4 linked regions of the Homo sapiens genome follow. The protein of the gene in region 3 purifies or fractionates together with the protein of the main gene of each other region. This does not show direct contact. Each region holds a gene or a part of one and is shown on either strand. Other genes may lie near its edges.

Region 1 (7,026 bases), on a different chromosome or scaffold from region 3:
GAAGGATTTTTTGTATTAATGATAGGAATTGTTACTGCAAGTTTGTATGCTGGTAAGGATGGTTCTTTAGGTGAGAATTGATATAGGGGACTAGGGGACAGTGCAAGAACAGAGAGGGAAATGGAATCCAGTACACAAGTAGAGAGGCTACCCATAGAGAGGAACATGGACAGCTCATTCATAGTAGTAGGAGGTTCAGGGTCAAGTGCAAGTGGATTGGTAGAGGTAGTAATGGGACAATGTTTCTATTTTCTCAAAGAAACAATGTCATTTGCTGACAGTAGGGAGGGAGGAAAGTGAAGGAGGCTTGAAGAGTGAGGAATGTTGAACATAGTGTTATTGTTTCTAGATATGTTTACATTCTGTTAAGAGGTGGAGTAATCTAGTTAAAGTAAAATTTTGAAAACTTCCTTATAATTATGTTGAACTAAAATAGTTTAAAAATATATAACAAAAATTAGTTATAAAGGATTCATAAGTAGAAATTCCATCCCCTGAATGTTTTGTAAATGAATTTTATAAAGTTATAAAAATATTGACTCTTGAAAGATTATTTGGAAAACAGGAAGAAACACCTCCTTTCCAAATCATCTATATTCCTACTACCCAGGCATAACCCCTACTCTTAGGTCCCTCCCATTTTTTTTCTTTTTAATGCCAAGTTGTTTTTTTTTTTAAATTTATTTATTTATTTATATTTTTTATTATACTTTAAGTTTTAGAGTACATGTGCACAACGTGCAGGTTTGTTACATATGTATACTTGTGCCATGTTGGTGTGCTGCACCCATTAACTCATCATTTAACATTAGGTATATCTCCTAATGCTATCCCTCCCCGCTTCCCCCACCCCACAACAGGCCCCGGTGTGTGATGTTCCCCTTCCTTGTCTGTTGTTAAAAAGAACAGTTATAGGCATGCTTCATATGCAATTTGTCATTCTATGCTTATCAGCTAGCCCTATAAATATTTTTCCATGTTATTACATACTTTTTATAACCATCAAATAGTTGGGTCATTATTTGCTGAATAATACCCTATTGTTGGACATTTAGGTTAACAATTTTTAGTTGTTCCATATAATCATTTTGAATAAATGTTCCTAAGAAACTCATTGTATACGTACCTTTCATTACTTGATAAGCTGTGTCATATTTTTGAATCACATAACTTAGAAAATAATTCTGGCTTGACTTTTTATTGTGACTTCATAGTCACACTGTGTTAAAGTAGATTCTCTTTCCTAATTTTACTAATTATATGTTAGGTTTAAAGTCAATGCAAGGAGGTGGGTGAGGTGGTGCACTCCTTTAGTCCCAGCTACTTGGGAGGCTGAGGCAGGAGGATTGCTTGAGCCCAGGAGTTCGTGGCCAGCCTGGACATCATAGCAAGACCCCCATCTCTGAAAACAAAAAACAAAAACACCAAAAACTGTTAAAATTGGTACAAGGAAACAATGTGTGTCCTGGAAGTATTGATGTAACTTTAATAGTACAATGATAATTTTATACCAAATTTTAGAGTATATATTCAAAGTAAGAAACATTAATATTTTTAATAGGTTGATCCAAGGATTAGTTTTGGATCATGGTGCCCGTCATCCAGATATGAAGAAGCGAGTAGAAGATGCATTTATCCTTATTTGCAACGTTTCACTGGAATATGAAAAAACGTGCGTGTTACTTTCTCTTTATAACTTTTGAATTTTTTTTTCTAAAGGTGTTTTAAAATCTCTTTTTCCTTCCAGATGTTTGGTGTAGACTACTTCTATCTTTTTTCCTTTTTCCTCCTGCCTTTACTAGCTGGTTTTTATTAATCTTTTAGAGAGGTGAACTCTGGTTTCTTTTATAAGACTGCAGAAGAGAAAGAGAAATTGGTAAAAGCTGAAAGAAAATTTATTGAAGATAGAGTACAAAAAATAATAGACCTGAAGGACAAAGTCTGTGCTCAGTCAAATAAAGGATTTGTCGTCATTAATCAAAAGGTGAGAAAGAAAGTTTAGATTTTAGTTATTTGTAAATGTTCTTAAGCATTTCTTGAAGTGTGGTCTGTGGACCCCTAAGAATCCCTAAGACTTTTTCAGAGAGTCTGTGAGGTCAAAAACTATTTTCATAATAATAATTACACCTTTTACATTGTGTTGACATTTGCAATGATGCTGCAAAAGCAATCTGTAAAACTGCTGGCACCTTAGTACAAGTCAAAGAAGTAGCACCAAACTATACTAGTAGTCATCGCATTCTTTATTGCTATACCACTGCAAACTTACAGTGAAAAAAAAAAAAGGCAGTATCATTTAAGAGTGTCTTGATGAAGTGGTAAAACTTATTAATTTATTAAATTTTGATTCTGAAATATGCATCCTTTTATTATTATGTGTGACAAAATATGAAGTATGCACAAAGCACTGTTTTTTTTTTTTCTTTTGAGACAGGGTCTTGTTCTGTCATCCAAGCTGGAGTGCTTGGGTGGCACCATCATAGCTCACTACAGCGTTGACCTCCTGGGCCCAAGTGATCTTTCCACCTCAGCTTCCCAAGTAGCCAGGACTACAGGTGTGCATCACCATGCCTGGCTAATTTTTAAGTTTTTTCGTAGAGGCTGGGTATTGCCATGTTGTGCAGGCTGGTCTCAAGTGATCCTCTTGGCTTGGCCTCCCAAAGTGTTGGGATTATGGGGCTGGGAACTTCAAAGCTCTTCTATTGCATACCAAAATATGATGGTTGTCTTGAAGGAGAGCACTTGTGTAATTGTTTAAATTGCAAGGTAAACTAGCCACTTTTTCATGGAATGCCACTTTTACCTGGAAGAATGACTGACAGACAAACTGTGGTTATCTAGATATGGGTATTTGGTAGATTTCTCTCAAAAATGAATGAGGAAATTCTGTGACTTAAAACAACTGACAGTATTTGTTGTCAATAACATTTGAACTTTTTTAAAAAATTAGAATTTCAGAAAACTTGTATCTGCCATGTGAACTTGACAGCTTTCCAATACTTAAAAGACTTTCCTGATAATAGTAGTGATATTAACAAATGTGAGTTTTTGTTCACTGAGATAGGCAAAGTTTCCACATGCATAACATGACACAGTTTCTACATGTATAACACAACATTTTATATATGAAATGTGTCAACATGTGGAAACTTTGCCTAACTCAGTGAACTGATGCTATCTACATGACTAAAAATGCATGATTTTTATAAAATCATACATGGATAAATAATCCATTCAGTGTGCAAGTTACAGCAATGTGTTTTAATGTGAGATAGTATGAAAAGTTCATTGCTATGGTTCCATAGTGAAACTAACCTTTGAGAAACTATTACTTACTGAGTTTTGGTATAGTATCAAAGAAGAATTTCCATAATTATCTGAAAAGCCTATTAAAATATTACTCCCTTTACAATATTTATCTGTGTGGGGCCAGATTTTCTTCATAAACTTGAACCAAAATAACATATCATTCCAAATTGAATACTGAATGAGATATGAGAATCCATTTGTTTTCTATGAAGATAAACATTGAAGAGATTTGCAAAAATGTAAAGTAATGCCACTGCTAGCTCACTATATATATTTTTGTTTTCAAAAGTGTAGTAAATTTTCATTTAAAATGTTATGTGTATTAACATAAAATGGGCTTATTATTTAAATGAATTAATAAATATTTTAAAAATTTCTCAGTTTTTATAATACAAATATTATAGATAGAGCTTACATAAACAAAAGCTTTTTGGGTGCTTAATCATTTTTAAGAGAGTAAAGTGGTGCTGAGACCAAAAGGTTTGAGAAATACTGGTTTAAAACATGTTTATAATTTTTATGTTAATTTGATTATAGGGAATTGATCCATTTTCCTTAGATTCTCTTGCAAAACATGGAATAGTAGCTCTTCGCAGAGCAAAAAGAAGAAATATGGAAAGGTAAGCTTGCAGATAATTATATATCCTAAGTTTTTAACAGAGTAAATGGAAACTATCCCATGTGTTTTCCTTTTAGCTTATGTGTAAATGTTGTTGAACAAAACAGTGGCATAAAAAAATCCAAATTTTGTTTTTAGTTTCAGTAAATAATTGAACTGTCAAAAAGCAAGGTTGTTAACCTACTGCAGAACTTTGTTGAAGTATAAGGAAAGTTTTTATCTTTTTAAAACAGATTTTAAAAACAAAACAATACAACATAATACAGCATGATCTCACTTTTATATATGGAATCTAAAAAAGTTGAACTCATAGAAGTAGATAGTAGAATGGCGGTTACCAGGGGCTGGGGCAGTGGGAGGGGAGGGGCACTGGGAATATGTGGGTCAAAGGATACAAAATTTCAGTTAGTTAGGAGGAATAAATTCAAGAGATCTATTGTCCAACATGGCAACTGTAGTTAATAACAATATATTGTTCTTTTTAAAAATCTTTTGCAAACCCACCCGAGAATGCACAATGTGTTGGATTCTTGAAAAATGCTGAGAGTAGATTTTAAGTGTTCTTATCACACAAATGGCTAAATCAAGCCTCACATAGGCAATATGTATGTTAATTAGCTCAATTTAGCCATTCCACAGTGTATACATATTTAAAAACATCATCATGTTGTACTCGATAAATATAGACAATTTTATTAGACAATTAAAAACCCAAAACAATACAATACAGTAACAATACAGTCTTCTGCATTAGATATCTTCTCTCTGAGAAATTAGTATTAATGTTCTCCATAATCAAGCTATGGTGACATATATGTAATTTCAGACTCTCTCTTGCTTGTGGTGGAATGGCCGTGAATTCTTTTGAAGATCTCACTGTAGATTGCTTGGGACATGCTGGTCTTGTGTATGAGTATACATTAGTGAGTATTTCTATGAACAGTGGTTATAAAGTGAATACTAAGCCCCCTTTTTTAAAGAAAAATACTACTTGACCTTTTATTTCATGTTTTGTGTTTTGAGATCTAATTCACAGAACAGATTTTACAGTTTATTTACCTAAATGTTTGTTAAGAGTTCAGATATAACTTAACTCCCTTAGTTATGCTTGATAAGAAAAATTCAAATGAAGATTGTATTCTAGTATAAATTGTTGATTTTATAATGACATCAAATATTAAAGTTATATATTTTTGTGCCACCCTTTAGGGTGAAGAAAAGTTCACTTTTATTGAGGAGTGTGTTAACCCTTGCTCTGTTACCTTGTTGGTTAAAGGACCAAATAAGCATACTCTCACACAAGTCAAGGATGCCATAAGAGATGGACTTCGTGCTATCAAAAATGCCATTGAAGATGGTAAGCTCTTTCTTGTGATTGATATGAACCTCATGTATATGTGTGTATATATGTATATATATATACACACACACCTATGTATGTATATATGTATATTTTTAGACAGAGTCTTCCTCTGTTGCCCAGGCTTTAGTGCAGTGGTGCGATCTCAGCCCACTGCAACCTCTGCCTCCCAGGTTCAAGTGATTCTTCTGCCTCAGCCTCCCAAGTAGCTGGGATTACAGGCACACACCACCACACTTGGCTAATTTTTTGTATTTTTAGTAGAGATGGGGTTTCGCCATGTTGGCCAGGCTGGTCTCGAACTCCTGGGCTCAAGCGATCTGCCCTTGTTGGCCTCCCAAAGAGCTGAAATTACACGTGTGAGCCACCATGCCTGGCCTTTAAGTCTTTTTAAATTTTATTTTTATTATTAATCTATTTAATCTATTTATTTCTTTTGAGACCAGGTTTTGAAACTGGCTAATTTTTGTATTTTTGGTAGAGATGAGGTTTCACCATGTTGCCAAGGTTGGTCCTGAACTCCTGGGCTCAAGGGATCCACTTGTCTTGGCCTCCCAAAGTGCTAGGATTACTGGCATGAGCCACTGCGCCTGGCTGCAAACCTCACATATATATATTTTTCTCAAGACAGGGTCTTGCTCTGTCACCCAGGCTAGAGTGCAGTGGCACAATCATGGCTCACTGCAGCCTCAAACCCCTGTGCTCAAGTGATCCTCCCACCTCAGCTGGACGATAGGTGCATGCCACCACACCTGGCTAATTTTTAATTTTTTTTTGTAGAGATGAGTTCTGTCTATGTTGCCCAGGCTGGTCTTGAACTCCTGGCCTCAAGCAGTTTTCCCCCTTCAGCCTCCCAGAGTGCTGGGATTTGTAGGCACGAGCCACCACATTCAGCCCATGTTGAGCATCTTTTAATGTGTTTATTTGCCCTTTGTATATCTGGTGAATTTTCTGTTTAAATCTTTTGCCCTTTTAAATAATTGGATTGTTGGCCATGCACAGTGGCTCTCACCTGTAATTCCAGCACTTTGGGAGGCCAAGATGGGAGGATTGCTTGAGCCCAGGAGTTGGAAACCAGCCTGGGCAACATAGCAAGACCATGCCTCTACACACACACACACAAATAGCCAGGCGTGGTGGCCTGTACCTGTAGTTCCAGCTACTTAGGAGGCTGAGGCAGGAATATCACTTGAGTCCCAAGAGTCTGAGGTTACAGTGAGCTATGATCACACCACTGCACTCCAGCCTGGGCGTCAGAGTGAGACCCTGTTTCCAGAAAAAAAAAAAAGAGAAGAAAAGAAAAGAAAAAAATTTGTGTTAGTATACTATTGTTGAGTTTGAGAGTTCTTTGTATATAATTTGGGTACAAGTGCTTTTTCAGATATATAATTGGCAAATTTTTCTCCTCTGTGGCTTATTTTATTATTAACAGTGCCTTTCAAAGAGAAGTTCTTAATTTTGATGAAGTCTAATTTATTATTTTTATTCTGTCATGGATTATGCTTTTGGTGTGGTATCTGAAAAATCTTTACCTAACCTAGGGTCATAAAGATTTTCCTCTAAAAGTGTTACAGTCTTATGTTTTACATTTAGGTCTGTGATTCATTTTAAGTTAAATTTTGTATATGGTGCAAGTATGGATACAAGTTCATTTTTTTCATATAAAGGTATCAGATTGTTTTAGTCTTATTTGCTGAAAAGACTTTACTTTCACCACCGAATTGCCTTTTCTCGTGTA
Region 2 (7,026 bases), on a different chromosome or scaffold from region 3:
GTGGACACTGTTCACATATTTGATTCCTTCCTTCCTTCCTCTCTCTCTCTCTCTCTTTCTTTTTTTTGATGGAGTCTCGCTCTGTTGCCCAGGCTGGAGTGCAGTGGTGCAATCTTGGCTCACTACAACCTCAGCCTCCCGAGTAGCTGGGATTACAGGCGCATGCCACCATGCCTGGCTAATTTTTGTAGTTTTAGTAGAGACAGGGCTTCAACATGTTGGCCGGGCTGGTCTTGAACTCCTGACCTCAGGTGATTTGCCTGCCTTGGCCTCCCAAAGTGCTGGGATTATAGGCGTGAGCCACCATGCCCAGCCCTTGACTTCTTTTTTTTTTATTGTGGAGAAAGGGCTGTGGCCAAAGTCCAAATCTGAAGATGATCCTACAGACTTCTTGGTAGAACTTTACTGCTGCCCTCTCAGACTTTTCTCCAGAGCAATCCAAGACCAAAAAAGTGCTTTAAGTTCATTCATTTCTCTAACACACTCGCCATGCTTCTTACCCACTCAGTAGCCTGCAGCTGACAAGACCAGACAGCTGGTGATTGTGGGTAGGTTAGGAAACTGAGCTGAGTGTCCCCTTTTCTGGGATACTGCATGTCCAACAAGGCCCAGTGACAATGCTGAGCCTGACCCTTTTCATGAAGGCTCAGTGATTCTTCTCCAGCCATGAGGTGCCTGAACTTCCCCTGCTAGGGACTTTACACATGTTGTCTCCTTAAACCCTCAGCAACATGGTCAGGTAGGTACTAAGTAGCATACTAATTTTATGGCTGACAAAACTGAGGTTAGAGAGATGGAGTGATTTGCCCAAGATCACACAGCTAAAAATGGTAGAGCTGGGATTTATACCTGCACCCCAAGCTATATGAGACAGTAGCAGTGTGTGGTCAGTGGCAGAGGAGATGGTGGTGCCCATCAGCTGGTGACTTCGGTCCAGTGGTATTTGTAGTAACAAACTCAAACTCACTGGATTTTCTTGTGTGTTTTCTTTTATTGCTGCTGTGCTCAACTATTATCAGAAAAAGTTAAGTAACAAAGCCAGCTGAGATCAAGGGCTCATTTTAAAAACAACAACCAGGACAAGCAGTGATCAGGAGATTTATGTATTCATGTATGTATTTACAGCCTGCCTTGTTCCAAAAAGGATTTAAGGGGCTGGGTCTAGGATTTGCTTTTAGGAGATTGTAGAAACAGTCCAGCCACCCATACTGCACCCACCAGGGTATTATTCAGGGGTCATTTGGCTTCCAAAAGAGGTCACCTGAGACCTAGCATGTTCCCTAATTAGCAGAGAAAGTTTGAATCCTTCAACTTGATTAAGAGTAATTTAGGATGCTTTCACAAGCAAAGATTGAAAGAAATTGTGGTTTCATAAGCAAAGATTGAAAGAAATTATGGGAAGAACATGGGTTTCAGAGTCAAGAAACCTGGGTTTCTAGTCTTGGGTCTGTCTACTGTCTAACCCTGGGCAAGTCACTTTACCACTCTGATAATTAGTCTTCCCATCTGTAGTGCAGGAGGTCAGATTAAATATTCTTTCCAGTGCTTTTGGATTTAGCTTTTCAGAAGGCAGAAGATCACCTTCACCTGTCCCTCCAAATTCTTTCTGATTGCTGATTTCCCACCAGGACTTCGTCTTCTATGCTCCCCGGCTGCGGATTAACAAGCGGATCTTGGCCTTGTGCATGGGGAACCATGAACTATACATGCGCCGTCGCAAGCCTGATACCATTGAGGTGCAGCAGATGAAGGCACAGGCCCGGGAGGAGAAGCACCAGAAGCAGATGGAGCGGTAGGTGCTGCACACTGATGTGGGGGGCCAGGGCTGGGGCAAGGAAGCTTCTCAAAGGTGCCCTGCATGCTAAGTCAGGACATGAGGCCAACCTAGGACTTCATAGATGAGAGGTTAGACACCAATATTCACATTTATTCAGAAAAAATCTACCAAGTTTGAGGGGCAGTTTTTACAGAGCTGGATCTAGCAGGAAACTGCCCTGTAGGACCTCACAGTCTACTCAGTCTAGTAGCAGAGAGAGGGAAAACAATATATACATAACTCAAGGTACAAAGGCCATGTCATTCATTCACTTAATAAATATTTATTGAGCAATGAATAAGAAAAGACCAAAAATCTCTGCTTTTGTGAAGCTAGCATTCTAGTGGGGAGGAGACGAACATAATAAATAAGCAAATTATGTGGTACATAAGATGGTTAAGAAGTGCTATGGAGACAAAAACATAGAAGAGGGATGGGGAGAAGGGTAAGCCAAGTATTCTGAGGGCCCAGATGGAGAATACCTAGCCAAGGGAGATAAGAAGGTTCCTGGAAGAGGTGCTAGGGCAAGAAAAAGCAAAAGCAAATACTTATTCCAGATTTGTAACAGACTCTGGGAAAAAGAAGCCTAGAGCTGGGCTTTAGGGCAGGCAGTGTTAGACCTGAGGACTGATGCACTAGCCGTAGAGATTACTAGACTTGAAGCACTTCATCCCAGCACAGAGCCAAAACTTGTCTCCCTAACAAGGTGGATAGGGCAGGTCTTATTGGACCATTTTCAAGATAGGGGAACAAGAGCAAAGCAGTGACATAGCTAAGGTCACCCAGTGGGTTGGTGGGAGAGCTAGGATTCCTGACTCAGGGGTACATTGACAGGGCCCCGTGTACACTGGCCTATGTGGGGCTATGATATGAGGACAAGGGTATAGAGGTAAGGGAGGGTGGCCCAAACTCACAATCCCTAAGTGTGTTGGGAAGGTTGGGTTGAGAGACCCAGAGGCAGCAAGCCTTGGAATTCCCCAGGCTTTTTTTTTTTTTTTTAGATGGAGTCTTGCTCTTTTGCCCACGCTGGAGTGCAGTGGCGCAATCTCAGCTCACTGCAACCTCCGCCTCCTGTCTTCAAGCAATTCTCCTGCCTCAGCCTCCTGAGTAGCTAGGACTACAGGCGCATGCCACTATGCCCAGCCAATTTTTTTTGTATTTTTAGTAGAGACGGGGTTTCACTGTGTTAGCCAGGATGGTCTCGATCTCCTGACCTCGTGATCTGCCCACCTCGGCCTCCCAAAGTGCTGGGATTACAGGTGTGAGCCACCGCGCCTGGCCTCCCCAGGCTTTTGTGGAGCGTTGTTATCCTGTTCTATCCATTTTATCTCCTTCCCTAGTGCTATGCTGGAAAATGAGAAGAAGAAGCGTGAAATGGCAGAGAAGGAGAAAGAGAAGATTGAACGGGAGAAGGAGGAGCTGATGGAGAGGCTGAAGCAGATCGAGGAACAGACTAAGAAGGCTCAGCAAGGTGAGGCTTGGAGTCACCTTGGAGATTGGATTTTTCCAGGCCTAACTCTGAGCTGGAGAACCTTCTGCCTGAGCTGTAGACTCAGACAATGTAGTTCAGGTGTGGCTACAGACTAGAAGAAGAATGGGCAAGAAGAGAGCTCAGAACTTTCTGCCAGCTTTGTCTTGGGGTGGATCATTTCCAGGAACGAAGCTATTGTGTCGTCTTTATCTCTGTGCTCTTCACTGCCTTCTCCCCTCCTTTTCTGCTCAGAACTGGAAGAACAGACCCGTAGGGCTCTGGAACTTGAGCAGGAACGGAAGCGTGCCCAGAGCGAGGCTGAAAAGCTGGCCAAGGAGCGTCAAGAAGCTGAAGAGGCCAAGGAGGCCTTGCTGCAGGCCTCCCGGGACCAGAAAAAGACTCAGGAACAGCTGGTAAAGCTGTAGGGTGGGCTGGGATTATGGGAACTGAACTTTCTTCCTTGTCTGCCTACTTACTTATAGCTACTTTTGCTTACATGCTGGCTTTTTAGAGCAGGCTACCACTCCATGGGCCTCCAGCAAATAACTAGTTCAGAAGCAAGCTGAGAAGTCACTAGTGTGGCCCAGAAATTTTTGCAGTCTTCCCTAACCCTTAGTTTCTGTTCACTTTCTTAACTCTTGGGTATCTGAGCTGATTGACCTGGCAAAGGAAAGGGAAGGAGAAAAGAACAAAAGGGACTCATATTTGAGCTCCTGCTGTATGTTGCTGTGTTGGGAATATTTCCCTTTTCCTTACTTATTTCTTCTTCCCAGTAACCCTATGGGATTAACCTCATATGAGATAATATCCCAGATAAGGAAATTAGAGCTCAGGGAAGAGATTCACCAAAGATCACACAATTGTAGCTAAATAAGGATTAGAACCCACCCATTTCTGCCTCTGTTTGAAAGCTTTGCTCCCTGAAATCACATGCAAAACTATGTGTCTATGCATTTTTGGGGCATTTGGCATCCATACTTTCATCACAGTTTCCAAGGGTTCTGTGACTCAGAAGTTAAGAACCTGTGGTCCAAACTCCTTGACATATACTCTTCCTTTGTACTGTTGGAGGTGGGAATAGAGGGAACCAAGACCTGTCTCTCATGAGGAAGCTGTCATGGGAGATTTACCCAAGGTGTGCATAAGCTTTTTTCCTTGTTCAGATAGCTTTGTGACACTTGAGTGTCTTTCCTGTACTTGTCCTGGGAAGACTCTTAGTCGAATCCTGAGCATTCTAGGATATCAGGAAAGGATCTGCCACTTCAGGAAGTGACCCAATGATGGCCAAAGCTTTACTGAGGCCCCCAGCTGCATACTTGCCAAGAGGGGCAGGGGGAGAGATAATGAGGAAGGGACAGAGATGGCATATTGTTTGTCTTCAAGAGGCCTACAGTCTAGGTGGGGGAGCTCTGACTTAAAAGGAAGTGGTGGTCAGGGAAGATGGGACTGGAATGAAGTAGTCTGGTAAAAGAGTCTCTGAGGCAGCAAGCAAGTGGAGCAGTAGGTCCCTTACTAGTCCCCCAGGGGACTTGGGTTGAAGACACCTGGGTCCTGAGGACCAGAAGGCCCAGCTCTCACAGGCTTCCAATTTATCCGTAGGCCTTGGAAATGGCAGAGCTGACAGCTCGAATCTCCCAGCTGGAGATGGCCCGACAGAAGAAGGAGAGTGAGGCTGTGGAGTGGCAGCAGAAGGTAAGACACAGGGCCTAAAGCAAAGCATTGAAGGAATGGGTGCCATATGCATAGGTAACAGCTCCTTAGATTCCTTATGTTTTGGCTCCCTCCCTCTTTCATACTTCCCACAGCAGGCAGCATGGGAGAAGGCACTCATGGTTTCGTCAAATACTTACTGGAGTTCTCTAATACCTCTAGGAAGTTGGTACAATTGCTCTTGTTTTATGGATGAAGAAACTAAGGATCAGGCAGATGAAGTGCCTTGTCCTACCTGGTGCCTGCCTCTTGCCAGACCGTTCTAGGCATATACAGGATGCCACAGTTTAACTGGTCTCACTGACAGTCTTTCTCTCCTTCTGTCACTGGACAGGCCCAGATGGTACAGGAAGACTTGGAGAAGACCCGTGCTGAGCTGAAGACTGCCATGAGTACACCTCATGTGGCAGAGCCTGCTGAGAATGAGCAGGATGAGCAGGATGAGAATGGGGCAGAGGCTAGTGCTGACCTACGGGCTGATGCTATGGCCAAGGACCGCAGTGAGGAGGAACGTACCACTGAGGCAGAGAAGAATGAGCGTGTGCAGAAGCACCTGAAGGTATACAAGTAGGGCCAAGGGGCAAGGAAACTATATGCATTGATTTAGTAGCCCATGGCATTCCCTAGACCATCATGGGGGATAGGTATAAGATCCTGTCCCAGTGTTGTATGGGAGCCCAAGCCGTTCTTAAGTGACAGCTTTAAGGATAGGCACCTCTCACTTATTAATCAGACCTTGGGCTATCTCTTCCCTTTTTGAGATTTTCTCTCTGCCCCACCTCCCACTCACTCCATTCACCTCTTACATTAAGAAAATATCTAGCTGACAAAATTCCCACCTGAATCTTTTGTATGTTGTTCTACTCTTAAAGGATACCCATTATCAACTGGTCCCCTAAGTTTATTTATTTTTTTTTAATATTCTTGCCCCACTGCAGTTCTAACAGAGTTGGAAATGACTCTCAATATTTATATATAGAGAGAAAGGGTGAGGAAGAAAGAAGGAAACAGAAGAGAAGGGAAGTCTGGTCAAATAACAGGAGGTAAAATGAGAGAAAGCCATTGACCTCTGTGTTCCCATACATCCTCACAGGCCCTCACTTCGGAGCTGGCCAATGCCAGAGATGAGTCCAAGAAGACTGCCAATGACATGATCCATGCTGAGAACATGCGACTGGGCCGAGACAAATACAAGACCCTGCGCCAGATCCGGCAGGGCAACACCAAGCAGCGCATTGACGAATTTGAGTCTATGTAATGGGCACCCAGCCTCTAGGGACCCCTCCTCCCTTTTTCCTTGTCCCCACACTCCTACACCTAACTCACCTAACTCATACTGTGCTGGAGCCACTAACTAGAGCAGCCCTGGAGTCATGCCAAGCATTTAATGTAGCCATGGGACCAAACCTAGCCCCTTAGCCCCCACCCACTTCCCTGGGCAAATGAATGGCTCACTATGGTGCCAATGGAACCTCCTTTCTCTTCTCTGTTCCATTGAATCTGTATGGCTAGAATATCCTACTTCTCCAGCCTAGAGGTACTTTCCACTTGATTTTGCAAATGCCCTTACACTTACTGTTGTCCTATGGGAGTCAAGTGTGGAGTAGGTTGGAAGCTAGCTCCCCTCCTCTCCCCTACCACTGTCTTCTTCAGGGTCCTGAGATTTACACGGTTGGAGTGTTATGCGGTCTAGGGAATGAGACAGGACCTAGGATATCTTCTCCAGGATGTCAACTGACCTAAAATTTGCCCTCCCATCCCGTTTAGAGTTATTTAGGCTTTGTAACGATTGGGGGATAAAAAGATGTTCAGTCATTTTTGTTTCTACCTCCCAGATCGGATCTGTTGCAAACTCAGCCTCAATAAGCCTTGTCGTTGACTTTAGGGACTCAATTTCTCCCCAGGGTGGATGGGGGAAATGGTGCCTTCAAGACCTTCACCAAACATACTAGAAGGGCATTGGCCATTCTATTGTGGCAAGGCTGAGTAGAAGATCCTACCCCAATTCCTTGTAGGAGTATAGGCCGGT
Region 3 (7,026 bases):
GAAAAAGAAAATAAATATTCAATTCCAGGAACTAGTGGGGCCTGACAAACATAGATTCACATCTGTGTGTCTCAAGATGCTGGAATAAAAGAACTGAGATTCCTGTCTGGAAACTGTTGGATTAAAATGGAAATTTTATAGCTGTGATAATCTCCTTCTACAGATGCCTTTTTAAAATTGACTATTGGTAGGAATTAGAATTTACAAGAGAGCAAATGAAGGATAGAAGAGAAATTCTCGAAGAGTAAAAAGTAATAAAACAAGGTCATAGGAAAAGGGAAAATAAGAACATACAGTAGGGAATAGATCTTGATAAATTACCTTTTAAAACAATAAATCTTGATTTATTTAAAATTGTAATGCTATTTTCTATATTTTTTAAATTATCTAGATTATTTGTTCACTAAGTGATCTGGGTTAGCATTTTTCCATTTTTAAGTAGTGTTCATGTGAATGTTTGTGTGGATGTAATGTGTGCTGTATACACAGTCTCTAATATTTTTGTTTGAACAAATAGCAAAATGAAATAAATTACTTTATGAGATTGATAAAGTCCTAGAGAAACAGACCCACTGTAGATGTTCCAATGAAAGGTGTACTTCATAGTCATTTTTCAACACTCACTAGCACTGAGTACACAGAATAACATGGCACTTTAATCACAAGTTATAAAGATAATTTTAAAACAATTTTATTTCTATATGAATATTCCACACTGCAAGGTTGCTTTAGAAGAGATGATCTTGTATTTTTAAAACTATATTACAACATTGCCATATATATGTATACTAGAAAATATTGGATGGTACTGTGGTTATTTTTTGTCAATAATTTCTCAATCAGTTAAAACTACGTGAGACATAAAACATTCCATAGAATTGAGTCAATTTCTCAGGTGTTTAAACTAATTTTGTTTTATGTTTATTACTCCACATGTCTTTATATCATTTATAAAGTTTACTGAAATTCATTGATTGATGCTTTGAAGCTGCTTAAATCTTGACCTTGTACTTATCTAATTTTTATAAAATAGTTGCAACTATCTTGTGAGTATAAGATTTTTATATATTTTTATATTCATTTCCTACTGGCACGTTAGTACCAAATATTTAGCTGGAAGAACATTTTGAGTTATTGATGTATGTACTCTACTGAGAAATGTGACAAGGGGTTTTTACAAAATTTGCTTATACTAGAAGGTAGATTTTTTTACTAGCTGATATATAAAATAAAGCAGGAAACAAAAAGCTTTTAACTGAATTTAAATAACTTTAAAATAATTTTCTATTAAATCCATCATTGATATCATCTAGAATGCACCTTTCCCCACACATATTATTGGAGCATTAGTTTAATATTTGAGTGTGAGGTAGAAGTAAAAAAAAATATAAAGTAACAACACAAAAAAATCATGAAGTAGAACACAACTTTGTTCATTTGGAGAAGTATCCCCTTGCTAAGTCTCACTGAGTGTTTTACTGCCACCTCTCTCCTCACATGGCATTTCTTCCTTTTTTGTTTAATCCCCCGAAGGCCCATATTCTGCCACGAGGAATCACACTTGAAAGCAGTGTAACAATTATGCATCTCTCTGACTCTTGCTTCTGCCCAAGAATTGAGCTTTTTAGCTGCATTATTAACCTGAAGACAGATCATCTGTTCTTTCTGAGCATACTTTTCTGTGTCCTCTGAGACAGCTCAAGACATTTTTCCAACTTCTCCATTTCTGCCATAGCACTAGTGAGTGACTTTGAGTTGAAATACAATTTAAAAATAATACATTCTCTCTCTTTTTTCTTTCTCTCGTTTCCTCTGTCCCTTCCACTCTCTTTCAGATTATTAGTTTATTAAATGTCTTCACACCCCAGAAAACGCTGGAGGAGTTCCAAGATGTGTAAGTAACAAAACTCATGAAGGAAGGGAGAGCACAGCACTCAGATAGCCCAAGGGAAAATCACACACCACACACACACACACACACACACACACACACACACACACACAGAGTTGAAATCCCTTATACTGCTCAAAGAGAGGTAAGAGGTGGGGTCAAATGAAAGGGGTCCAGTGATATGTAAAGAAGATTCTGTTTGTGGGGTTACTTCCTGGAAAGACATTCTGCCTCCTTTTGGCCTTGTGGCTTTATATACTTTGTTGTTCCATGCTCTTGGTCACTCAGGGAAGGCTTATTTATTTATATTTATTAATAGATTCCACAAACTTTCTACAATGAGTTAATTTACCTGAAGAAATAGTAATAAGGCCAGGCATGGTGGCTCACACCTGTAATTCCAGCACTTTGGGAGGCCGAGGCAGGTGGATCACAAAGTCAGGAGATCAAGACCATGCTGGCCAACATGGTGAAACCCCACCTCTACTAAAAATACAAAAATTATCCAGGTGTGGTGGCATGCACCTGTAGTCCCAGCTATTCAGGAGGCTGAGGCAGGAGAATTGCTTGAACCCGGGAGACGGAGGTTGCAGTGAGCTGAGATCGTACCACTGCACTCCAGCCTGGGTGACGGAGCGAGACTCCGTCTCAAAACAAACAAACAAAAAGAAATAGTAATAAAAGGGACGTGAAAATTATCTTTATTCTTTCTATCTTTATAGTGTCATTGATTTTGTGCAAAGTCTACCCAGTAGTGACAACAGATGGAGGAGAGGAAGTGATTCCCTAGCACCTTGTCTTTAATACAGATACATTGAATTTAATGGAAGAAGCTGTCCTTAATTTTTTTCTTATTTGAAATTATAATATTCACAAAAGAGTTGAGGGAATACAGGGGAAAGTGAAAGCAAAATTAAGGTAACAAATCTGTGGACATGAACCAGACATTAATAAATGCTTTTTCTACTAGCAACCTTTTGGTAGGGTTCGTATAGCTAACACACATGCAATACCTGGAAATGCTCAGTCTTGATTAAGTCAAAGGCAGAGCTAAGAAGTTCAGAAGACTTACAGAGTTAGGAGAGCATTCTGACTAAATCAAAGGACTTCATAGATCTTGTGATCTGGAACTAACACTGTGGATTCACCCTTCTAGTTACTTAGTAATGGAACTGATGGATGCCAACTTATGTCAAGTGATTCAGATGGAATTAGACCATGAGCGAATGTCTTACCTGCTGTACCAAATGTTGTGTGGCATTAAGCACCTCCATTCTGCTGGAATTATTCACAGGGTAAGAACACCTTCTCTAGGATTACAATTCAAATGCTTTAAGAGGAAGAGTAACTGTAGATTATTTTCTTTATACGGGGGGCATTGGTCAAATATAATATACTTCCTCATTTCTTTGATACTAGAATTAGCACCTAGTTCACTAATTGTAGAAGGAAATTCTAGTTATATTGTAGTTGAGTTTGTTCAATGTTATGTTTTGGCTCATTGAGATGCAGCTTCTTAGAAGCCTCATGCTTTCAGCTCCTTGATTGGCAGAAGTCATATGTGCAACTGAAATAAGAAAATTCATTTCCATAGATGTTTCTGGCAGCATAAAGACAGCTTCCCTGATCTGTTCTTCTGTCAGGCCTAGAAATGATATATATGTTGAAAGATTTATGTTGTCCTAAGGAGAAACCTAACAGAAGACAATAAATATTTTTTTTTCTAAAACCTCTTCCCAAGATTAGTGTAAATTGTGAAAATGATAATACAATTCTTTTCTGGGATTAAAACACTTTCCAAAAACTAATAGTTAACTTATTTGTAGCAGTAATCATTTGCCTTATTTAGAGCTCTGTAGGCAAGGGGGACCTCATCAGTGCTACTGCAAAATGGCTATGTTGATTGAGTCAATGGAAATAACATTTCACTTGATACTGGCTTTTAATTTTTTCCCTTATCCTTACTGTTAGGATTTAAAACCAAGTAACATTGTAGTCAAGTCTGATTGCACATTGAAAATCCTGGACTTTGGACTGGCCAGGACAGCAGGCACAAGCTTCATGATGACTCCATATGTGGTGACACGTTATTACAGAGCCCCTGAGGTCATCCTGGGGATGGGCTACAAGGAGAACGGTAGGGATGCTTCGGGAGAGCAGCATCAAAACCATGAATGAAACGGGTGCACGTTGTAGATAGCCAAGGGGAATGTTCTCTTTTATGTACATGCTTTTATAAAGTAGGGCTGCCAGATAGCATATTCAGGGTTTTTTTTAATACTACTGGTAAGAAACACTCATTAAAAATGTGAAGGATGTTATTGAGAAGTCAGTTTTGCTAGAAGAGCACTAAATGTTAATAGTGAAAAAGAATTGTAAATGGAGTCTGATTAAACAGTCAAGCGGATGCTGATTAGCACACGTGCCTAGATATTGAGAAAAATTGCTATTTGGGTTGCAGCTCAGCTGAGCATGAGTGTGAAAGCAGAAAGGAATCTACCACAGTTAGCCATGTGGCTTTTATGTTGTATCTCAGACTGATGGCTGTAGTTCTAGAAAAAGACAAGCAAAAAAGTGACACAAATCCTTAGAGTGAAAATCTTCATAGACAACTTTGAAATAATCCAAATTATTTAAACTGAATAAGAATTTCTGTAATAATTTAAGCTGCTCTGTAAGAAACATTTAGAGTAGCAATTGCCTAATAAATCCTTATATATTCCAAAAATCGTAAAAAAGGAAAATGTCAAATTTGACACTACTGCTTTCATAAAGAAAACTTAATGTTCATGAACACTTTAAAATGAAGGCTATGGAAGGAATCTTAAAAATGTATCACAATTGAGTGTAGTTGATTAAAACTAAGGATTTATTAAATATGTTAGAAAGCATTGCAATGTATTATTTTGATGAGACTATATCTTACAAGTAATGCACCATATTGAAAACATATTCAATATACTTAGGAATTAAAATAGTTTTAAATTAGGATTGTATATGTATTCAGTGTATCTTTAATATTTATTTTTATATTCTATTCTATTTAGTTTTTAGCAGTCTGTATTAATAAGTTTTATAAAAATAATCAGTGTATTTTTATGTACAGGTGCTACAGGGTACTTTTGTGAAAATTCCCTGGCCACTGAAGTTTACAGAAACTTCTTTGTATACTCTTAGATTAGAAGACAGATAATGTATGTATGCATTTATACAGAGGAAGTTAAAAAGTCACCTCTTACAAAGGTCAGGTTCACCCTGGTGGGCAATATCGGAGTTCTGGTACCTTTTGACTCAGAAGAGATGAATCTAGCCCTCCTTGCTAGGCAATACCACATCTAATTTATTCAGAAAAGAAGACATTTTTATACTTTCTTCACGAGTTATTTTTAAAAAGTCAAAGGAGAAACAAAGTCAAGAATCAAGAATGTACAGGAGACTGGGGGGTGGGGCGGTCTGAATTTGCCTATTTGGGCTTTCAGATCTTGGCACTACCAATAGCTGGTATTAAAATCCCTTTCCCTTCCCTCACTAGAAGGAATTGCAAGTTGCTGCCTTAGGTTTTTGACTTCTCTAAGTCCATGGAGGAGGCCTGCCTAGCACCCTGGTGCTGCCCTCCCACCAATGGGAGGAAGGTTATCATGCAGAAAAACCTGCTTGCTCCCACATCAGGCATGCCCTGCTGTCCCCTGCACCTAGCCCCGCCTTCCTTCCCCATGGAACAATTCGGCCAAATGATTCTGCCCAAAAGTTCCCTTTGTCCATAATGAAAAGCAAGTTGGAAAGGGGTAAAGATTGGTAAGAGAAGGCAAAGCATGTTTTCCTAACAAGTTTGACAATTTGGAAATAAATATATGTACATAACAATTTTTAACACCTTTAATACTTTTTTCACTTTCCTTCCAGATGACTCCTTTATACATGTGCTAATTCATCATATGTCTTTTTTCTTGAAATATTTCAAATGGAAACTAAAACTGATGTTTATTTACAAGAATAAACTTCTGAAGGAAAAGCTAAGTCCCAAATACCAGGAATTCCAATTCTTTTGCCTCTAAACCATGGTTCCAGTCATTTCCTGGTTTATTGGATTTGGTTGAATTTATCTTGTTTTGCCCCGGCCCCCTGGCCCCCTGAAAAAAAAGGTGGTCTCTTGTTGCCCTATTCTCTGTAACTGAATAGAATAGAAAATGAAAATAGCCAACTCTACAAGTTAATATTGTTTTCTATGCATCCGGAAAATGACACAGAAAACCCTTTGGTGGCTTTTAGCTGTCACCTGCCATGGAGATACTTTTGGTTTAGCTATTGCTTTTCTCAGTCACCAATGTCACCACTTTGTGGCACTGCTGAGAGGCAATGTAAGGCACCCACAAAGTAATGGGTTTTTAAACATTAATTTGAGTTCTCATACTAAACACTGTTTATGTAATAGCATAGCGCTGGTTTGAATTCACATTTTGGCCAACTTTTGGTGGGAGGTGAAAATTGTACTTTTAATCAAACTGTTCTTTTTCCTCCTCCTTCAGAAGTCAATTATCTTAGTTAACTTTACTTTCCTCCCTTTTCTTCACTACCCTCTCTCTCCTGTTCTAGTGGATATATGGTCTGTGGGATGCATTATGGGAGAAATGGTTCGCCACAAAATCCTCTTTCCAGGAAGGGACTGTATCCTTGTACCTTTTGCTACAGCTTTACCTGTTTTGTTCTCTCTCCCTTTTAAACACATAATGATTTTACCAGGAGAGTAAAGATAGAAGCAAAAAGTTGGGTAAGTGGTGTTATTGTAATAAAAAAGTGATAATTTCTATAATCTGACCAGTACTGAAGACTGCCTACCACAATGATTTCTTTTAATTAAATTTCAATGGGCTTTTTTCTTCTAAAATTACTTTCTTGCCTGCAACTAAAAATAGAAATGCTATTTTTCTTTAATAACAAAGGCTACCAGATCCCAAATGATTAAAATATATTTACCTTTATAACTAGCAAAATAAGTCACTATTTGCAAGTCATTTTCCATCTCCTTTCTAAAACTATTTTGTGCTTCTACAATATTTAGGCATAATAATTGCTCTCCTTGCTGACATTCTAAGCTTCTGTCTATGGCTTTGTTGATTTAAATTACTCGACACTAA
Region 4 (7,026 bases), on a different chromosome or scaffold from region 3:
CTCCTGTTCCACCCCATTTATTGTGAGGCTTCTGGTCTTGAAGTCACTTCATGGCCCAAGATGGAGTTCTGGCTGTCGTGTGCGTATTTCAGGAGGGGAACTGGTAGGAAGCAGGGCAAAGGGTTCCCTTTGACGAGTATTTCAGGAAGTCCCACACAGCATGTCAGTTTACTTCTCCTTGGCCAGACTAAGTCATGTAGCTGTACCTGCATAGTTGCAAGCATAAAACTGGGGTTATGTCAGTAAGGAAAGAGAGGCGAGTGGATATCCAGGAGGCAGCTTGCCCTGTTTGTTGCAGTAAGGAGCCACGGGAAGCCTGGGAAGCAGGTTGACTTGATGATGAATATTCCATGAAGTTGCCAAAGTCTCACTTAGCGACATTTACTTAGTTATCTACACACCAATTTACCATCTCACGTAGGGAGACAATTATTAGATTGTTAAGGAACAAAGGTAAAAATAAGATTAAAAGAGAGAAGGGAGTAGAAGGAAACCATACAATCTGGGAACAGTGAATCTTGCTGCCAGAAACCTACGAGCTAGCCTGTTCATTCAGTGCTTGTGCAGGCTAGCTAGGAGTATCAGAAACATTTTGGCTCTTTATGGATTTTCCAGAACACCTTGAGTATTTAGCAGTGGAGCACAGGCTGCAGGCTACCTTGATGTGATGCCTGCCAGGATCCTCCCATCAGCACCACCCGTTTAGTTAGGCCAGGCCTGTACCATTTCCTGCATCTCTATTTCTCAGTGTTACAGGGTGGATAGGGTCTTAGGATACCCACTGCGGCAGAGGGAGAAGAAAGCAGGGTCCGCATACAGTGTCTACTCCATTTGGGTTTGGTGTCTCAGGGCGGAAGGGGCCTTTGCATTTACCCCCATTTCTCTGTGTGCTTTGCTGGGCACACCAGCGGCACTGGCTCTGTGGGAGCTGCTTGAGCTCACCTCTGCTGGCCTCTTCCGAGGCTTGGGAGGCAGAAGAGGGCAGAGTCCTATCAGAGTCGCCAGGATGGGGTCTGGCTGGCCACCCTCAGCGGAACCAGTGATCAGCTCTTTTCTTTATCCCCAGGAAGTCTCTCAGTGCTCTGGCCTTCTCCCCTGATGGGAAGTACATAGTGACAGGGGAGGTGAGTCGTGATCGTGACTGAGTGGGAGTCGGGGGCTGGGGGGTCTTGGAAGCCATTCCTTCTGCTCCCGGCAGGCCTGGGAGTCCCTGGAATAGCTCCTTCCTGGGCCAGAACAGCCCTGTAGCAGATGGGGGAGGTGGCTTTTGGGCACATCCTGTGGCAATGCCATCTTCGGCCTTGACAACCCTCTAGCCCTGCCCAGTACAGAGCCCAGCAGCAGTAACGACCCCACCTTCCCTAGAATGGGCATAGGCCTGCTGTGCGCATCTGGGATGTGGAGGAGAAGAATCAGGTGGCGGAGATGCTAGGCCACAAGTATGGTGTGGCGTGTGTGGCCTTCTCACCCAATATGAAGCACATCGTGTCCATGGGCTACCAACATGACATGGTGCTCAACGTCTGGGACTGGAAGGTAAGAGCCGACCAGCAGGCCTGTGGCAGGCAGCCAGCTGCCACAGCATCCTATGTCTTGGGCACAGGGAGAGCTACATGAGAGGACGCAGTAAAGTGCTCACTCACCCAACAGATAACAGCTATTGAGCACCTGTGACATGCTGATCCCTTATTGTAGGGCACAAGGCAGGCTCCCAGCTAGAAGCATTATACATATTTTTATATTGACCAGCTGTGACCTTAGGCAAGTGACTTAACATCTCTGTGAGTCTGTTTCCTCCTCTGTTAGATGGATATAGTAGTACTTATCTTGTTGAGTTGTGAGACTTTAATGAGTTGATAAGCACTGGAAGGCTGGGCTTTGGAACAGCTGTGGAGCTGGCAGAAGTGGGTACCAAGTCCTGGCTCTGCCCATAACCCACTATGTGACCTTGAGCACATGACATCTCCCCCTCTGAGCCTGGTAGGGTTGGGGAGAAGCGCCTCCCTCGTGGGGCTTTTGAGGGATTGAGGAAATTTCATGGGTTATCCTGTGAAGGGCTCAGGGCAGGGCCCAGAGCAGGAGCCCCATCTGTGACAGCCATAGGTTGTGTTGTCCTTACATCCCAGCCGTGACTGTCCCCAATACCATGTGTGGGCTGCAGAGCTTAGACCCTTGGAGAGAGCTCTGGAACATACTGTCCCATGGGGACCATTCCAAGCCTCTGTCCCTTCCTCTGTCGGTGAGGAATGAGCAGGGTGCCCCACATAGGTTTCCCCATACAGCAGCTCCCTGGAGGGTCCCAGGAAGACAGACTTGGAGTGGGGACGAGCAGGGAGTTCCAGCCTGAGGGCAAAGGCACAAACAGTCCAGTGGAATGAGTGCTGGCATGAGCTTCTCTGCACTTATTCTTCCAGAAAGACATCGTAGTGGCCTCCAACAAGGTATCTTGTAGAGTCATTGCCCTCTCCTTCTCAGAGGACAGCAGCTATTTTGTCACTGTTGGGAACCGCCATGTGAGGTTCTGGTTCTTGGAAGTCTCCACTGAGACAAAGGTGAGTTTCTGTCCCTGCCCCTTTAGCCAGGCCCTGAGGGAGTCACCATCGGTGGCAGCATGGTCTCCTGTTTCTCCCTGAGATTTGAGGGCAGCGGTCTCGGGCCATTTGGCCTCTCAGGGGCCCAGCTGCTGCTTCTGGGCCTACTCTCAGGGTGCTGATGCACAGGCCCTGCCAGGAACCCCCTGACCCTGGGACCAGCTCTCATTCTTGGACTGCTGCTGTCCAGCCCCTCTGTCCAGAGTGGCAGGGTTCTAGTGTTTTCTTCCCTTCTCCATTTGGAAGAGCTTCTTAGAGTTCTCCTGTTTTGTTGTGTCCTATCATCTGGTCATGCAGGGCCCAGCTGTGTGGACAAGTATCTCACTACGCCCTCTGTGTCTCCAGGTGACGAGCACAGTGCCCCTTGTAGGGCGCTCGGGCATCCTGGGCGAGCTGCACAACAACATCTTCTGTGGTGTGGCCTGCGGTCGGGGCCGGATGGCGGGCAGTACCTTCTGTGTGTCCTACTCGGGCCTCCTCTGCCAGTTCAATGAGAAGAGGGTGCTGGAGAAGTGGATCAACCTGAAGGTACCACCTCCCTCTCTGCCATCAGCTGGACAGACTCTTTCTCGTGATATGTGTCTGCAGGGGTGCTCATCAGCATTGACCACACAGGTTCTGCTTATGTGACTAGTGGTGAATGACGCCCACTCTCTGAGCTTAAGGTTCCACATCTGTAAAATGGGAGTACTGCTGCCCTCCCCGCAGAGCTGATAAGGAAGTCACGTGAGATAACATAGGCAAGGCAGTGAGCACGGTGCTTGGTACCCTGAAATGGGCTCAAGGTGACAGTTGTTTTCCCATGACTATTTGATCTACTTCACATTTCTTTTCTCCTTTGAGCACTCTGGCTGGTAGAGGATTGCATTTTTTTTTAATTAATTTATTTTTTTTTATTGATCATTCTTGGGTGTTTCTCCCAGAGGGGGTTTGGCAGGGTCTTAGGACAATAGTGGAGGGAAGGTCAGCAGACAAACAAGTGAACAAAGGTCTCTGGTTTTCCTAGGCAGAGGACCCTGCGGGCTTCCGCAGTGTTTGTGTCCCTGGGTACTTGAGATTAGGGAGTGGTGATGACTCTTAACGAGTCTGCTGCCTTCAAGCATCTGTTTAACAAAGCACATCTTGCACCGCCCTTAATGCATTTAACCCTGAATGGACACAGCACATGTTTCAGAGAGCACAGGGTTGGGGGTAAGGTCATAGATCAACAGCATCCCAAGGCAGAAGAATTTTTCTTAGTACAGAACAAAATGAAGTCTCCCATGTCTACTTCTTTCTACACAGACACAGCAACAATCTGATTTCTCTATCTTTTCCCCACCTTTCCCCCTTTTCTATTCCACAAAACCGCCATCGTCATCATGGCCCGTTCTCAATGAGCTGTTGGGTACACCTCCCAGACGGGGTGGTGGCCGGGCAGAGGGGCTCCTCACTTCCCAGAAGGGGCGGCCGGGCAGAGGCACCCCCCATCTCCCGGACGGGGCGGCGGCAGGGCGGAGGCGGACCCCCACCTCCCTCCCTGACGGGCCGGCTGGCTGGGCAGGGGCTGACCCCCACCTCCCTCCTGGACGGGGCGGCTGGCCGGGCGGGGGCTAACCCCCCACCTCCCTCCCGGACGGAGCGGCTGGCCGGGCGGGGGCTGACTCCCCCCACCTCCCTCCCGGACTGGGCGGCTGGCCGGGCGGGGGCTGACCCCCACCTCCCTCCGGGACGGGGCGGCTGCTGGGCGGAGACGCTCCTCACTTCCCAGACGGGGCAGCTGCCGGGCGGAGGGGCTCCTCACTTCTCAGACGGGGCGGCTGCCGGGCGGAGGGGCTCCTCACTTCTCAGATGGGACGGCCAGGCAGAGACGCTCCTCACCTCCCAGACAGGGTCGCGGCCGGGTAGAGGCGCTCCTCACATCCCAGACGGGGTGGCGGGGCAGAGGCGCTCCCCGCATCTCAGACGATGGGCGGCCGGGCAGAGACGCTCCTCACTTTCTAGACGGAATGGCAGCCGGGAAGAGGCGCTCCTCACTTCCCAGATTGGGCAGCCGAGCAGAGGGGCTCCTCACATCCCAGACGATGGGCGGCCAGGCAGAGACGCTCCTCACTTCCCAGACGGGGTGGCGGCCGGGCAGAGGCTGCAATCTCGGCACTTTGGGAGGCCAAGGCAGGCGGCTGGGAGGTGGAGGTTGTAGCTAGCCAAGATCGCGCCACTGCACTCCAGCCTGGGAAACATTGAGCACTGAGTAAACGAGACTCCGTCTGCAATCCCGGCACCTCGGGAGGCCGAGGCTGGCGGACCACTCGCGGTTAGGAGCTGGAGACCAGCCCGGCCAACACAGCGAAACCCTGTGTTTGGTGGAGACCAAAAAAATACGAAAACCAGTCAGGCGTGGCGGCGCGCGCCTGCAATCGCAGGCACTCGGCAGGCTGAGGCAGGAGAATCAGGCAGGGAGGTTGCAGTGAGCCGAGAGGGCAGCAGTACAGTCCAGCTTTGGCTCGGCATCAGAGGGAGACCGTGGAAAGAGAGGGAGAGGGAGACCGTGGGGAGAGGGAGAGGGAGACCGTGGGGAGAAGGAGAGGGAGAGGAGGATTGCATTTTTTAAAAATTGGAGGTACCATTGATTTAATAACTTTTCAGTCAAAAAAGACTACACAAAATACATAAACTTTTATTTATTTTTATTTATTTTTACTTTTTTTTTTTTTTTGAGATGGCGTCTCACTTGTTGCCAAGGCTGGAGTGCAGTGGCGCAATCTCAGCTCACTACAAGTTCCACCTCCCAGGTTCAAGCAATTCTCCTGCCTCAGCCTCCCAAGTAGCTGGGATTACAGGTGCCTGCCACCACGCACAGCTAATTTTTGTATTTTTAGTAGAGACAGGGTTTTACCATGTTGGCCTGGCTGGTCTCGAACTCCTGACCTTTAGTGATCCATCCGTCTTGGCCTCCCACTGCGCCCGGCCATAAACTTTTAAACTAAAGCATGATCTATCGATACATTGCAGAGCTTCTTTCCTTTAGTATCTGAAGGTTTGAGTCAAAGCTGTTTTCCCATCTGGAATCAGTTGCCCATTTGGCTATCCGCCCGAGCGTTGTGGTTTCCTCTCCTGTTCCTGGCCTGCCTTTGTGACTCACTCTGGAGATCACCTTCGAGGTTAATGGCTTGTGGAAGAGTTCCAAGTTTTATCTCTGTCCTAGTTGGTTAAACATCATTTTCTCTTTTTCAAGCAAGTGAAAAGCTTTCAATAGATAGATGTTTATTTCCTAAGCACTAAATGACTCATAAATTAAGTCCCTGTAGATTTGGAAAAACTCCTTAAACTGTATCTAGAGGTCTAGCACTTCCTAGTAGGATAGACAGTCCTTTCTAGATACTGTAACTTTTTTCTGTACCGCTTTGGAGTACAGTCTTTATGAAGTTGTTTGTAAGCAAAAGGGAATAAAATTTAAGCCTAAAGGCTGGGCGCGATGGCTCACATCTGTAATCCCAATGCTTTGGGAGGCCAAGGCAGGTGGATCACCTGAGGTCAGGAGTTCAAGACCAGCCTGACCAACATGGTGAAACCCCATCTCAAAATACAAAAAATTATCTGGGTGTGGTGGCGGCCGCCTATAATCCCAGCTACTCTGGAGGCCGAGGCAGGAGAATCACTTGAACCCAGGAGGTGGAAGTTGCAGTGAGCCGAGATTGTGCCATTGCACTCCAGCCTGGGCGCAACAAAAAACTCTATCTCAAAAAAAAAAAAAAATTTAAGCCTAAAATTCAACCCTGTTACTACAAGTGACTTACCTGAAGTTGCAGTCTGCTGAACAGGTATTTTCCATACACAGCTACGTTTCTCTGTAGACAGCAGTGACAATTCTGTTTCCGTTCATGCCTCTGCCTACCTGCTGGCACATGTCTTTCAATAGCAGCAGTATGCTATATCCTGATTTCACAAATCTTAAAATATGCTAAAATGGGTGTCTTAGACCCAAGGAACTGTAAGTCTTCTCTGGAGGCCTAAGGCTGCTCTGTCAGTCCCCATATCCCCGGGCCAGGCCACGTGAAGCACCAAATCCACTGGGGTCCCTTTTGCCCCTACAGGTCTCCCTGTCTTCCTGCCTCTGTGTCAGCCAGGAGCTCATCTTCTGTGGCTGCACAGATGGGATAGTCCGCATCTTCCAGGCCCATAGCCTGCACTACCTCGCCAACCTGCCCAAGCCACACTACCTTGGGGTAGACGTGGCACAGGGCCTGGAGCCCAGGTACTGCCCTGTGGGGAGAGGGAATGGGAGGGGCCCACCCAGAGTCTGTCCACTGGCATTCATCCATGCTTCCAGATCCATCTATCTGTCTGTCCATCCCACAAATACCCATCATGACTCTCAGCCCTGGGCATTACAAAGCAGAAAAGTCCTTGCCTTCCGAGGCAAGCCTCACAGTGAGAAGTGAGGCTGGGTAGGGGG

What was found.
Region 1: the proteins of MAPK10 (region 3) and CCT6B purify together in Homo sapiens (affinity purification with mass spectrometry; 3 studies listed by BioGRID and IntAct, with this or other methods). This does not show direct contact.
Region 2: the proteins of MAPK10 (region 3) and MSN purify together in Homo sapiens (affinity purification with mass spectrometry; 2 studies listed by BioGRID and IntAct, with this or other methods). This does not show direct contact.
Region 4: the proteins of MAPK10 (region 3) and WDR62 purify together in Homo sapiens (affinity purification with mass spectrometry; 2 studies listed by BioGRID and IntAct, with this or other methods). This does not show direct contact.

Annotation. Positions count from the first base shown.
Region 1 is NC_000017.11:34,937,442-34,944,467, reverse strand, and holds part of CCT6B (T-complex protein 1 subunit zeta-2), read left to right. Parts: intron 1-1,561; coding exon 1,562-1,672; intron 1,673-1,824; coding exon 1,825-1,984; intron 1,985-3,846; coding exon 3,847-3,929; intron 3,930-4,754; coding exon 4,755-4,851; intron 4,852-5,137; coding exon 5,138-5,285; intron 5,286-7,026. UniProt on the Homo sapiens protein: Component of the chaperonin-containing T-complex (TRiC), a molecular chaperone complex that assists the folding of proteins upon ATP hydrolysis.
Region 2 is NC_000023.11:65,733,639-65,740,664, forward strand, and holds part of MSN (moesin), read left to right. Parts: intron 1-1,628; coding exon 1,629-1,792; intron 1,793-3,156; coding exon 3,157-3,287; intron 3,288-3,539; coding exon 3,540-3,700; intron 3,701-4,886; coding exon 4,887-4,979; intron 4,980-5,331; coding exon 5,332-5,556; intron 5,557-6,090; coding exon 6,091-6,255; 3' UTR 6,256-7,026. UniProt on the Homo sapiens protein: Ezrin-radixin-moesin (ERM) family protein that connects the actin cytoskeleton to the plasma membrane and thereby regulates the structure and function of specific domains of the cell cortex.
Region 3 is NC_000004.12:86,098,054-86,105,079, reverse strand, and holds part of MAPK10 (mitogen-activated protein kinase 10), read left to right. Parts: intron 1-1,835; coding exon 1,836-1,894; intron 1,895-3,047; coding exon 3,048-3,186; intron 3,187-3,862; coding exon 3,863-4,028; intron 4,029-5,794; coding exon of another isoform or gene 5,795-5,946; exon of another isoform or gene 5,947-6,478; intron 6,479-6,484; coding exon 6,485-6,556; intron 6,557-6,631; coding exon of another isoform or gene 6,632-6,639; exon of another isoform or gene 6,640-7,026. UniProt on the Homo sapiens protein: Serine/threonine-protein kinase involved in various processes such as neuronal proliferation, differentiation, migration and programmed cell death.
Region 4 is NC_000019.10:36,064,892-36,071,917, forward strand, and holds part of WDR62 (WD repeat-containing protein 62), read left to right. Parts: intron 1-1,066; coding exon 1,067-1,124; intron 1,125-1,365; coding exon 1,366-1,536; intron 1,537-2,414; coding exon 2,415-2,552; intron 2,553-2,936; coding exon 2,937-3,119; intron 3,120-6,664; coding exon 6,665-6,825; intron 6,826-7,026. UniProt on the Homo sapiens protein: Required for cerebral cortical development. Plays a role in neuronal proliferation and migration.